2 separate regions of the Homo sapiens genome follow, and region 1 is linked to region 2. The links come from fine-mapping of genetic effects on gene expression. A gene starts in region 2. The other region holds a variant in brackets. All regions are shown on one strand. Distances are between the middles of the regions.

What was found. PIP is the estimated chance that this variant, and not a neighbour inherited with it, causes the effect.
Region 1: its variant is the best candidate, but not a certain one, in a credible set for the expression of CNOT8 in lung (GTEx, PIP 0.63).

The regions. Positions count from the first base shown.
Region 1 is chr5:154,963,175-154,968,541 of GRCh38, forward strand. MRPL22 (mitochondrial ribosomal protein L22) reads left to right here. Exons shown (of 7, transcript NM_014180.4): 7 at 3,512-5,367. The coding sequence ends at 3,723. Among named protein-coding and RNA genes, the nearest start is that of MRPL22, 25 kb to the left of the region's middle. The variant G/A (reference allele first, on the strand shown) is at 3,253.
Region 2 is chr5:154,855,822-154,861,200 of GRCh38, forward strand. It overlaps CNOT8 (CCR4-NOT transcription complex subunit 8), which reads left to right and starts at 2,806. Exons shown (of 7, transcript NM_001301073.2): 1 at 2,806-2,947. RefSeq lists enhancers at 1,600-2,101, 2,102-2,605, 2,481-2,650, 2,606-3,108, 3,612-4,114 and silencers at 2,851-2,950, 3,011-3,070.

The sequences.
Region 1 (5,367 bases), 110 kb after region 2:
GTGATCCACCTGCCTCGGCCTCCCAAGATTTTGGGATTACAGGCGTGAGCCACTGTGCCTGCCCTGAAAATATTGGCAATATTTTAAATTCATTACACCTATTGGGTATTATCTATAGAAAAACACAGGTTGTCTTCATTTTTGAGATATCTTAATGTATTCTTTCATTCAAAAAGTATTTGAGTACTTTCTGTGTGCATACTATCCACATTAAATAGGTGATGTTATATCTTTTGTGTCATTTTAAAACATTTAACACTTGTAGTTCTTTGACAGTAGTATTTCTTTGGAAGAATGCATACATTGTTCTTCTGAAGTATAATAATACTGTGTATACCATTAATATTATATGTACTTGAAAAACTTTGAAACTTATTTCAGAATTTGAGCAGATTTACCAGAGACCTCTGTATTGAAAAAATGATATTAAGTAGCAGATGATGTATTTCAAAATTATTTCTGTTTCTATGGATCATGAACTTTTGGGGCAATACAAAAAGGGTATAAGTTTGGTTGAGGAGGTGACTTTTACAGATGAAACACAGATGCTTATAAAGACAGCATATGATTTGGGACCAAAAAGAGTAATACAGACAAATGGTATTGTTGGAGTAGAGAAGAAAAGGTCAATATGGGTTAGAATAGTCGTGGAGACTTTCTAGAAAAAATTGGCATGTGAAGATAGGCTTTTGGGAGTCTGGAGGAATGCTCTTCCAGGAGAAGAGCAGATTTTTAAAGTGGGGTGGCCATACATGCAGAGGCACATAGGTTGGAATAAGCAGTAATAGTGTAGTACAATGAGGAGAACAGTGTGAAGGAAGTAGAAGTTTGACCTCGAGTAGATAAAATGGGAAGGGTAGATTGGGCCTATATTCCAGAGAACTGAACATGGCAGGCTGTGTATTTGGTTCAAACTATATCAAAGAGGTTTGGGTAAGAGATTTATGTTATTAAGATAGTGTTTTAAAAGTATTAACAATAAGCGGTAGTTTTGAAATTGTGCTCTGTGGGGTGTTTAGCAGTGGGACCCTTGATATCTTGGTCACCACTATATCCTTGGAGCCCAGGACAGAGCCTGGTACCCAGGAGGAACTAAAAAATGTTTGTTGAGTGAATGAATGGCAGAGTTTTGGGTCTTCCTTGACCCACGTTTCAATAGGAGCAGATCAGCATTACAGTGTTATATATATCAGGCTTCTACATATTGTTTCATTTTACTTGAAATGATTCCATATACAAAAGCAGTTTGAAACCCCTAAATATGGACTTAGTGGAGGAGAGATTGGAGGAGAGGAACCAGGAAACAGTTTGGCAACTATGTTCTAAGTCCTGATTTCATTTACACCTCAGGGTGGCTGTGTTGGGTATTCCCATTACGGTGTATTAAAGAATCTTAGGATGTTTCAGAAAAATTAATGTTTTTGTTTTGACATAAAGAAATGATGGCATCATGGCTTTAAGATATGCAGATGATCTTTTATGGCTTTAAGATGAAATCATGACTGACAGTTAGCAGGCATTGAGCTTCTGCTTTTGTGCAGATCTCTGTAAGTTTGTGTTTTGGGGGAGATAGAAGGGAAATGGGAGCCGACGTAGACCGTGATGGGGTTGATCATTGTGATCTAGTGATCCATTGAGTATTTGGAAATTGGTGCTCAAGTTGGATAGAGAAATGATTTTGGATAGAAGCAGCTATCACATTTGTAAAATGCTTTTTAGAAGTTTTCTGGTCTCACTGTTCTTATTTGTAGGTTTCCTCTAGACAGGTTGATCCAGGGGACGCGCCGTGATGGGGTTTCCTTATAAAGTGATTTGTGTAATGCTGCTTTCTCTGGAAATTTGTAAACTCATTTTTTCAGTGCCCACTAAATGAAGTTAATAAAAGGGCAGTAGGTCTTTCCCTATCTCACTTAGACCCTAGGCAGTTTTCACTTTCATTCTTGGCTTTCTCTTTGGCAAAGCTAGGAAGCTTCTGCTGAAACCCACTTCACTAGAGGATATCGTAGTTAGAGAGTTGTCAAGTGCATACTTTGGTATAGTCCCTATATTTATAAAGTATGTCACAGTAAGTGTATAAGAATGATGAGTGTTGAAATGGATAATTTGATATGTATTCTGTAGATTTTACCTTTTTAAAAGGCTTATTAACTAAACAAGTAGCTGACTAAATACATTCAGAAAATAGTAGAAGGTAGATGGCTACTACTCTGACTTATTGTGGGTGAACAGGTGAACAGTTCTTCTTATGTACTATTTTTTTTTTTTTTTTGAGATGGAGTCTTGCACTGTCACCCGGGCTGGTGTGCAGTGGTGGATCTTGGCTCGCTGCAACCTCTGCCTCTCGGGTTCAAGCGATTCTCTTGCCTCAGCCTCCCAAGTAGCTAGGATTACAGGTGCCCACCACCACAACTGGCTAATTTTTTGTATTTTTAATGGAGATGGGGTTTCACTATGTTGGCCAAGGTTAAACTCCTGACCTTGTGGTGATCCGCCCGCCTTGGCCTCCCAAAGTGCTGAGATTACAGGTGTGAGCCACCGCGCCTGGCCCTTACATGCTATTTAAAAGATTTCTTTACACTTTCAAGGTCAAATTTTGATATACAGAATGGGGGAGGGGAGCTGAAGGGGCCGTTGTGCCAGAGTTCCTAAAACTGGCTGTCAGTCAGAATTTCTGGGGAGAGTTGGGGTACGGGTGTTTGCCCAGGATGTAATTTCCAAGGCCCACCCCAGATATACTGAATTAGAATCCACAGAGGTGAGGTCTCAGCATCTGCATTTTAATTACATTCCCTAGGTTAGTCTGATGTAGCTTGTCAGAGAACCAGCATTTGGGAGCCATTGACTCCAGTGGCTTCTCATCACAATTAGAATAAAATAAAAAACTCCTTGCCTGAGCCTACAGGACCTTGTGTAATCTTGCCCTAGCTTTATCTCTAATCTCTTTTCCTTGTTTGTGCTTCTCTTCCCCTTGCTTACTATGCTTCAGCATGGTAGTCTTCTTTCTTTTCCTAAAACAAGCCGAGTGCATTCCCACCATTGGGCCTTTGCACTTGCTGTTTCCTCTGCCTGGAATACCCTGTCCCTAGATATTCAAATAGATGATTCATTCTGCTCTTAGATCAAATGTCTCTTTCTCAGGGATGCCTCTTGACACTCCCAGTCTGAAGTCCCTTACACCCCATCATTGTCTGTCATCTCATTCTGATTTATTCACAGCACTTGTCACTAGCTGAAATTATCATTTTATTTTAC[G/A]TCTTTCTTCTCCAGAATGTAAACTGCTTGGAGGCAGGGGCCTTGCCAGTCTTGTGCACTCTTACTTCTCCAACACTAGAATAGTGCCTGGTCCTTAGTTAGCATTCAGGAGATAGTTGTTTTGAGACAAGCCTGCTCTAGCCAACCAGTGAGCCCATGTAATCTCAGAATCCAGTCAAGGAAAGGACAGAAATTGCTCAGCTGATCAGGCTTGTGGATAACACTCATTTCCTGTAATTCTCTTTTTCTTCCTGTTTAGCTGAGTCCACCTCAGGACGAGGCCAGTGCCTGAAACGCATCCGCTACCATGGCAGAGGTCGCTTTGGGATCATGGAGAAGGTTTATTGCCATTATTTTGTGAAGTTGGTGGAAGGGCCCCCACCTCCACCTGAGCCACCAAAGACGGCAGTTGCCCATGCCAAAGAGTATATTCAGCAGCTTCGCAGCCGGACCATCGTTCACACTCTATGATGAGGAGATTCAGACTCCACAGTGTATATATTTTGCCATTTATTTTCTAAAAATAAACAAAAATTGAAGGCAAATGCTTTTTATGATTTCTCATTGAATTATTGAAACAGTGTATAACTGCTAGTTGTAAATGAATATTTATAAGGCTTTGCCCATTTCTTTTGAGCCTCTGGGCATATTTGTATGCATTTGCGACTTGGAAGGGGAAATCAGCTTTAAACATAGTAACAGACTATATTTCAAAAGGCTTTTGGAGTAACTTTGAAAGGGAATGTTAACTTTCCAACTAGTGTCCTGCAGGTGGCTGTTTTGATACTGGACTTGAATACAGTGTTATGAGGTAAGAAAATTGCTTTTATTTCACTTAATTTTCTCTTGGGACCATGGGAAGTTAGAGTGGCTGCATGTTGTTTCATTACAGTATTTTAGGGTGTTCAGTGGTACCGTTTTTCCTTTCACTGTTGGCACAGGCCAGTGAGTCAAAAATTATATTTTCCTTTACTGTTTTAGCAGTAACTCGAAACTACAGGAGTTTATTAGATATACGAATCTAAAACTCCAAAAACCTTTAACTTTGAAAATTTTCTTTTGGTTAAGCAAAGCCTGTTTTTATTTCTTCTTCCAACAGTGCTTTATATTGTTTGGATATCTTGTTTAGGATTGATTTATTTTTCAGGGTAAATTCAATTACTGAGAGAGGAATTGAACCAATCTCAGCATTGCATTCTAAAATGGGGCAGTAGGTGGCACTCAACCTTTTATTAGCAGAAAATTGTTAGTTTCAAATTAGAGTGTTCAACACTGCTTCCCTCTCATTCATACACGTCTTCATTAAGAAGAAGTACTCTTTGTCTACAGCCCTAGTCCAACTTTTGCATGCAAAAGAAGAATCGAGGATGCTTGCTTGTTAATGCAGACTTCTGGGCCCCACCCCAATGATTCAATTCACTAGGTCTTATGGGGGGCTGGTTTCAGAAATCTATGTTTTAAACAAACACTTCCAGGTAATTCTGTTGTAGGGGACTACGCTTTGAGAATACGGCTTTAGGAGAATGAAAAAATGTAGTTTTATTGCCATGTTTTAAGATGGCATTAATAATAGTTACTGTTTACTGGGAACTTGTTATTTGCAAGCTCTGTGCTAGTATTTTACATAATTCTTCACAACATCCTGAAAATGTAGCTTTTGTTTTACCACTTTACAAAGGAATAAACCGAAGCACACAGAATTCAAATAACTATCACAAGTCACACAGCATGTAAATATTGGGGCTATGATTGAAAGGTTTCTAAAGTAGCTGGTTCTGCATACCTTTTGAGTATACAGCTGGGTTTTTGTGTCTCTCCAGTTAACCTAATGCATGGGTAAAAAGACATCAGGGGTCAGTGGAATAAACCAAGGTGTAGGACAGATTCATTCTGGGTCCTAAGCTGTTGTAGCATGGAGTCAGGGAAATAACACTGGAATATTAAAAGGTAACCTTCATTCTAGTCTGTGCATTCTCATTAGCCAGAAAGAAGACTGGATAGGTCTCTTCCCTTGCTGGCCTCCATTTCATTCATTTATGAAACAAGAGACTCAATGTTCTCTGTAGAAAACCTTTTTTAGAATCACTTGAAGAATTTGTTTAAAAATGCAAATTC
Region 2 (5,379 bases):
TGGCTGGCGCCTGTAGTCCCAGGTACTAGGGAGGCTGAGGCAGGAGAAAGGCGTGAACTCGGGAGCCGGAGCTTGCAGTGAGCCAAGATTGCGCCACTGCACTCCAGCCTGGGCGACAGAGCGAGACTCTGTCTCAAAAAAAAAAAAAAAAAAAAGAGTAACACTCTAACTTCTCCTAAAATAAAATCCATCTGTTTGCTTTATATCTATTTTCAATAATTTGAGAAACGAACACCCAATTCTGGGTGAGGGGTGGTAGTGAGGCTGGACATGGTGTTTCCTGTTTGTTTTAGCACACACCAGGCCCAGTGCCACAGGAAAAAACAAAATTCCAAGAAAGGATTGGGGAGGCCGCTTTTCATGTGACTACTGCCTGCCTGTCAGCGCTAGCCTCTTCTGACTCTAAATTACAAGTGGAAGAAAGCACGTTAGAAACCCACAGAACTGGCCCGGCGCGGTGGTTCAGGTCTGTAATCCCAGCACTTTGGGAGGCCGAGGCAGGCGGACCACGAGGTCAGGAGATCGAGACCATCCTGGCTAACAGGGTGAAACCCCGTCTCTACTAAAAAAAGAGAAAAAAATTAGCCGGGCATGGTGGCGGGCGCCTGTAGTCCCAGCTGCTCGGGAGGCTGAGGCAGGAGAATGGCGTGAACCCGGGAGGCGGAGCTTGCAGTGAGCCGAGATCGCGCCACTGCACTCCAGGCTGGGTGACAGAGCGAGACTCAGTCTCAAAAAAAAAAAAAAAAAAAAAAAAAAAAGAAACCCATAGAACTGACTGGGGGATGGGGCACTTGCCTGCCTTCTTTATCAGTGTATCCCTCAACGGAATCACTGTTTATTTTTTTATTTTTTGAGAGGGAGTCTTGCTGTGTCGCCCAGGCTGGAGTGCAGTGGCACGATCTAGGCTCACTGTAACCTCCGCCTCCTGGATTCAAGCAATTCTCCCTGCCTCAGCCTCCGGAGTAGCTGGGATTACAGGTGCCCTCCACCACGCCCAGCTAATTTTTGTATTATTTAGTAGAGACAGGGTTTTGCCATGTTGGCCAGGCTGGTGTTGAACTCCTGACCTCAGGTGATCCGCCTGCCTTGGCCTCCCCAAGTGCTGGGATTACAGGCTCAGTGAGCCACCAATCCCGGCCCCAAATCGACTGTTTTAGGGAGAGCAAACTGAGACATGCCATTTATTGAACGCTCTTTTATATCTTCCTCGGTGCGGGGTGTTTTTCCAATTATTAACTATTTAATCTTCACAAGCTCACGACAGCCATTCGTAACCTAATTTTGCAGATAAGGAGCTAGACACTCATTTGGGGGGGAGAAGAGGAGGACTGGAGTTCAGAAAGTGCATTTGATGCTCTTATCCTGGAGGCTGGAGCTAGTTCACCTCCCTGGAGAACAGCTTTTGGGAATCCCGTTTGAAATTGCCGCTCAAGGCCAGCTCGGCATCCAGCCTAGGAATTGGAGGATTTTGGAGAATCCCCTTAGGGGGAAATGTTTAAAAGTGCAAAGTGAATAGTAGAAGCCCCTCTCCTCGTCACTAGGGGTACATTTGCCGTTTTCTTATCAACAGCCTCTCAAGTACAAGCATCTGGGACAAGAACTAGAACCGTGCTTGGGGCAGCCCCCACGTCCTCTCGGGAACAGGGGTGGAGCGCTGGCGGGAGTGGCTGAGGGCGGCCCGCCGCCGACACTGTGTGCAGGAAGCGGGCGCTTTGTCTGCTCTCCCACCGCGGAGAACACGAGGCGGAGGCGCGCCCCAGCTGGCCACACGCTGCCCAGGGCCGGCGTCGGTCAAGAGCCCTCTCTTCAAGCAGGATTAAGAGGGAACCAAGGGGCTGGCAGAGGGGCCTCAGAAGCTCCTGGGCGAGGCCTGAGCCCGTGGGTCTCGACACTAAAATCTGGCGAGCTCCCTGCGCGTCCGCAAAGATTTTGGAGCTCTGAAGAGCCCGGCGACGCCTGCGCTGGCCAGGCGCCGTGCCCACGGGAGGCGCCGTCCTCTTTGTAACTCGAGCAGACCCTGGCGGGCCAGTTGCTATGGCAATGTTCCTCGCTCTGCTCGGTGAGGCCGGGAGGTAGGCGGGCCTTGGCGGACGTCACCCACATTCGGCTTTGGGGAGCCGCCCCACCCCCAACTAATTGTTTGCCAGAAAGGAACCGTAGGATAGATGCTTTGTGAGACATCTACGGGGCCATGTTAGAACAGAAAGTCGCGACAGCCTCTTTCTCCGTCAGCCTCTTCACAAATCCCTTCGTGCCAACGATTTTAACGGTCCTTCAAAGCCAGGAGGAGGGGGCGTGGTAATTCGAGGGGTTTGTTCGAAGGGCCACGCCCTTTCCTCGGCCTTTGGATTTTTCCAGGCCGCGCCCACGGCGGGGGGGTGGGGGGGGGCGCTAGTTCTAGACCACGCCCCTTCCTTGTTCGCTCGGAAAGAGGACCAAAATGGAGGAGTAAGAATCATGATTAAATTGAGCGAGCGCAACTAATCACGCGAAGAGGGCCGCAGGCGGGCCGTCTTCCGCAAGCGTGCTTCCAGGCCTCCACTCCCCACCTATTCGGCGGCACCCTGTTACTTCTGCTCCTGCGCGCTGCTTCCCGCGACCTCACAGGCAGAGCGAACACGCACGGAGTCGCAGGGGCGCGCAAAGGGGGAGGAGCGGGCGTGACCAGGCGCGCGCGCGCGTCTGGAGTGACTCTAGAGAGCAGGCGAGTCGGGCGGATCGGGTGGGTAGAGTGGTGCCGTCCGGTTGTTTGGTGGGAGGCACGTAAGACCGCTCTGGGCACGGGGGCGCTCACCTCACTGGCTCGTTCGGTTCTAGGAGCAGATCCGGGGTAGAGGGAAAAGAGCTCCGGGCCAGGGGCTGCCGTCGCCGCCGTCGGGGAGTCAGCCCGCCAGCCCGCCAGCTCGTCAGCCCGCCAGCCAGCGCTTCGCGGGCCCTGTCGGTCCCGGTAAGCGGGCCTGCGCTTACCGGAAAGAGGAGCGTAAGATGAAAGAGTGTGAGAGACCATTGGGGGTCTGTAGGGGGAAGGGGAGTGGGGGCGTGTGTAAGGGGCAGGGTGTGTGAGGAGGAGAGGAACCCCAGCAAAGAGTAGTAATAATAATGGCCACCGTCACACGATAATATTCGAGTAATATGTGCGGGGACTTTACAAAGCATCTCATATGCTTCATTTTAACTTCTACTCCAATCCTCCGAGGTGCGTACTGTTATCAAACCCATTTTACAAGATAGGAAAACCGAGGCACGAAATAGATTAAGTGGCTTATGCAAGGACACACGACTACTACGTGGCCTGGCCTGGCTTCGAACTTAGTTATCTTAGTCCTAAGGCCCGTAATTTTAACTTTGCTTTACCAAACAAAAACAGAAGAAGAATGGCGTGTCAGAAGGAGGAGGACTGAGTGTGATTTGAAGTGGAAGGATGATGATAAACGAGAAGAGAATGATGATGGGAGACGGAGTAGTGGGGAGGAGGACCTGAATTTGGAATCTTGCGGGCCTCCCCCTTCTAAATCGCCGCCTCTTCCTTAGTTCTTGCGGCCCCATAACTTTTTCTTGGTGTTCTATGGCTTTATGAATGGAGGAGCCAACTCACAGACCTGGGCCATTCGGGTGGTTTTAAGAAGTTTGAACTGCGGTTCAATCCAGGGCAGTGCCTTGAGACACTGTTTGGAGGTAAGGGAGGGTCAGAGGATCCTCTTAAACGCTGCTGCTATTTATTTCTTCAAACGTGCCACTTCCTTTTCTATCATATCTATGCACGGCAAAGCCTTTGTTCAGTCCTCTAGAATAAGGAAGTGATGTTTATTGTTTCCTTGTACACTTGGGCTTAAACGAACAAAATCAGACTCAACGTTTCTTTTCCCGAGCAAGGCCTTGATTGCTTGCAGAGAAAACTTTCCTGTGGCTTTATCATTAGTTGCCCTTCAGAGCTTTCCTGTGTAAATAAGAAGCTATGTTTTGGAGAAGTTTACACCGTAGATGAACGGGAGCGATCTGAACATACTGCACTGCAGGTCAACACAGAGCAGGGACTTCAGTAATTCATAGGTGTGAGTGTGTTTGTGAAAACCTTTCCTTCTTGCACAGTTTTCTGTGTAGCTCATGTGGGAGTCAAGTTTTTAAGTCAGCCCGTGAGGCAAACATTGTATGTAATAAAAATTAACCCTTAAAAATTCCTAGGAAGGTGCAACGCTTGAGATTAGCATCCTGTTTCTGACTACATCCTGGACGGTTTTTCCTTCAGTTTTGAAACTTGTTACTGTTGCTTTGGTTGTAACCCAGATAAGTAATTAGATTACCTTTAGGGGCTGTGTTGTGCAAATAAGCATATTTGAAAGCCATAGAGTTGTGATGCGCTGTGAGATGCTTGCCCTGAGGAGGCTTAAAAGGAGGAAGACAAACCCCTATCTTAGGCTCATTTTGGAGCATGTGCTTACAAAGTGGAAAGTGGCAGGCAGAATTGCTGGTATGATGATGATGATGATGATGATTTTTTTGAGACGTGCTCTTGCTCAGTCGCTGAGGCTGGAATGCAGTGGCGTAATCACAGCTCACTGCTGCAGCCTTGACTTCCTGGGGCTCAAGTGATCCTCCCAGCTCAGTCTCCTGAGTAGCTGGGACTGCAGGCACACACTACCATGCCTGGCTAAGTTTTTGTACTTTTTGTAGAGACGGGGTCTCACTTTGTTGCCCAGGCTGGTCTCGAACTCCTGGCTCAAGTGATTCTGCAGTCTCAGCCTCTCAAAAGTGCTGGGATTACAGGTGTGAGCCACTGCCCTTATCCTGCTGGTATTTAAGTTGCTATTTTATTTTATTTTTTGGCCAGCATATGCAGTAATTTGACTTGCTAAATTAAATGTGCATAGTGCGATTCCTCTTTAATTTTTGAGTGGCACTACATTCAGGGGCTTGCAAGCTATTGTTTACTTCCCCACAGATCCTAGCTAACTTTGGAGCAAAAATGGCTTACATATTTTTGCCAACTGTCTGGCTTCGGCAGTCCCCATATATATGCCAGATATGTATAACAGTGGTTAGCTTTTTAAAAACCAATTCTCTTTTAAATGGAAGTTAAAGGCGTCTTTTGGTTGTGTGGGGTTTTTTGTTGTTGTTGCTTTTGCTTTTACGGAAACATCTCTCAAAAACTCAGGAGTGATACACCCACTTCCTCCAAAGTAGTTATGGTTATGTTTGAAATGACACCAAAAATGAAGGGTATTATTTCAGTTAGGGAAATAAGGAAGTACCACCGATTTAACATTATATGGGTATAGAAAATGGTTTTAAGGCCTTTTGCAGGGGAGAAATCTTAAGCAAGTTTAGGAATCTAAAATTCTGAGTCGAAACATTTTCTGAATTATGGTCAGATAGTGTAAT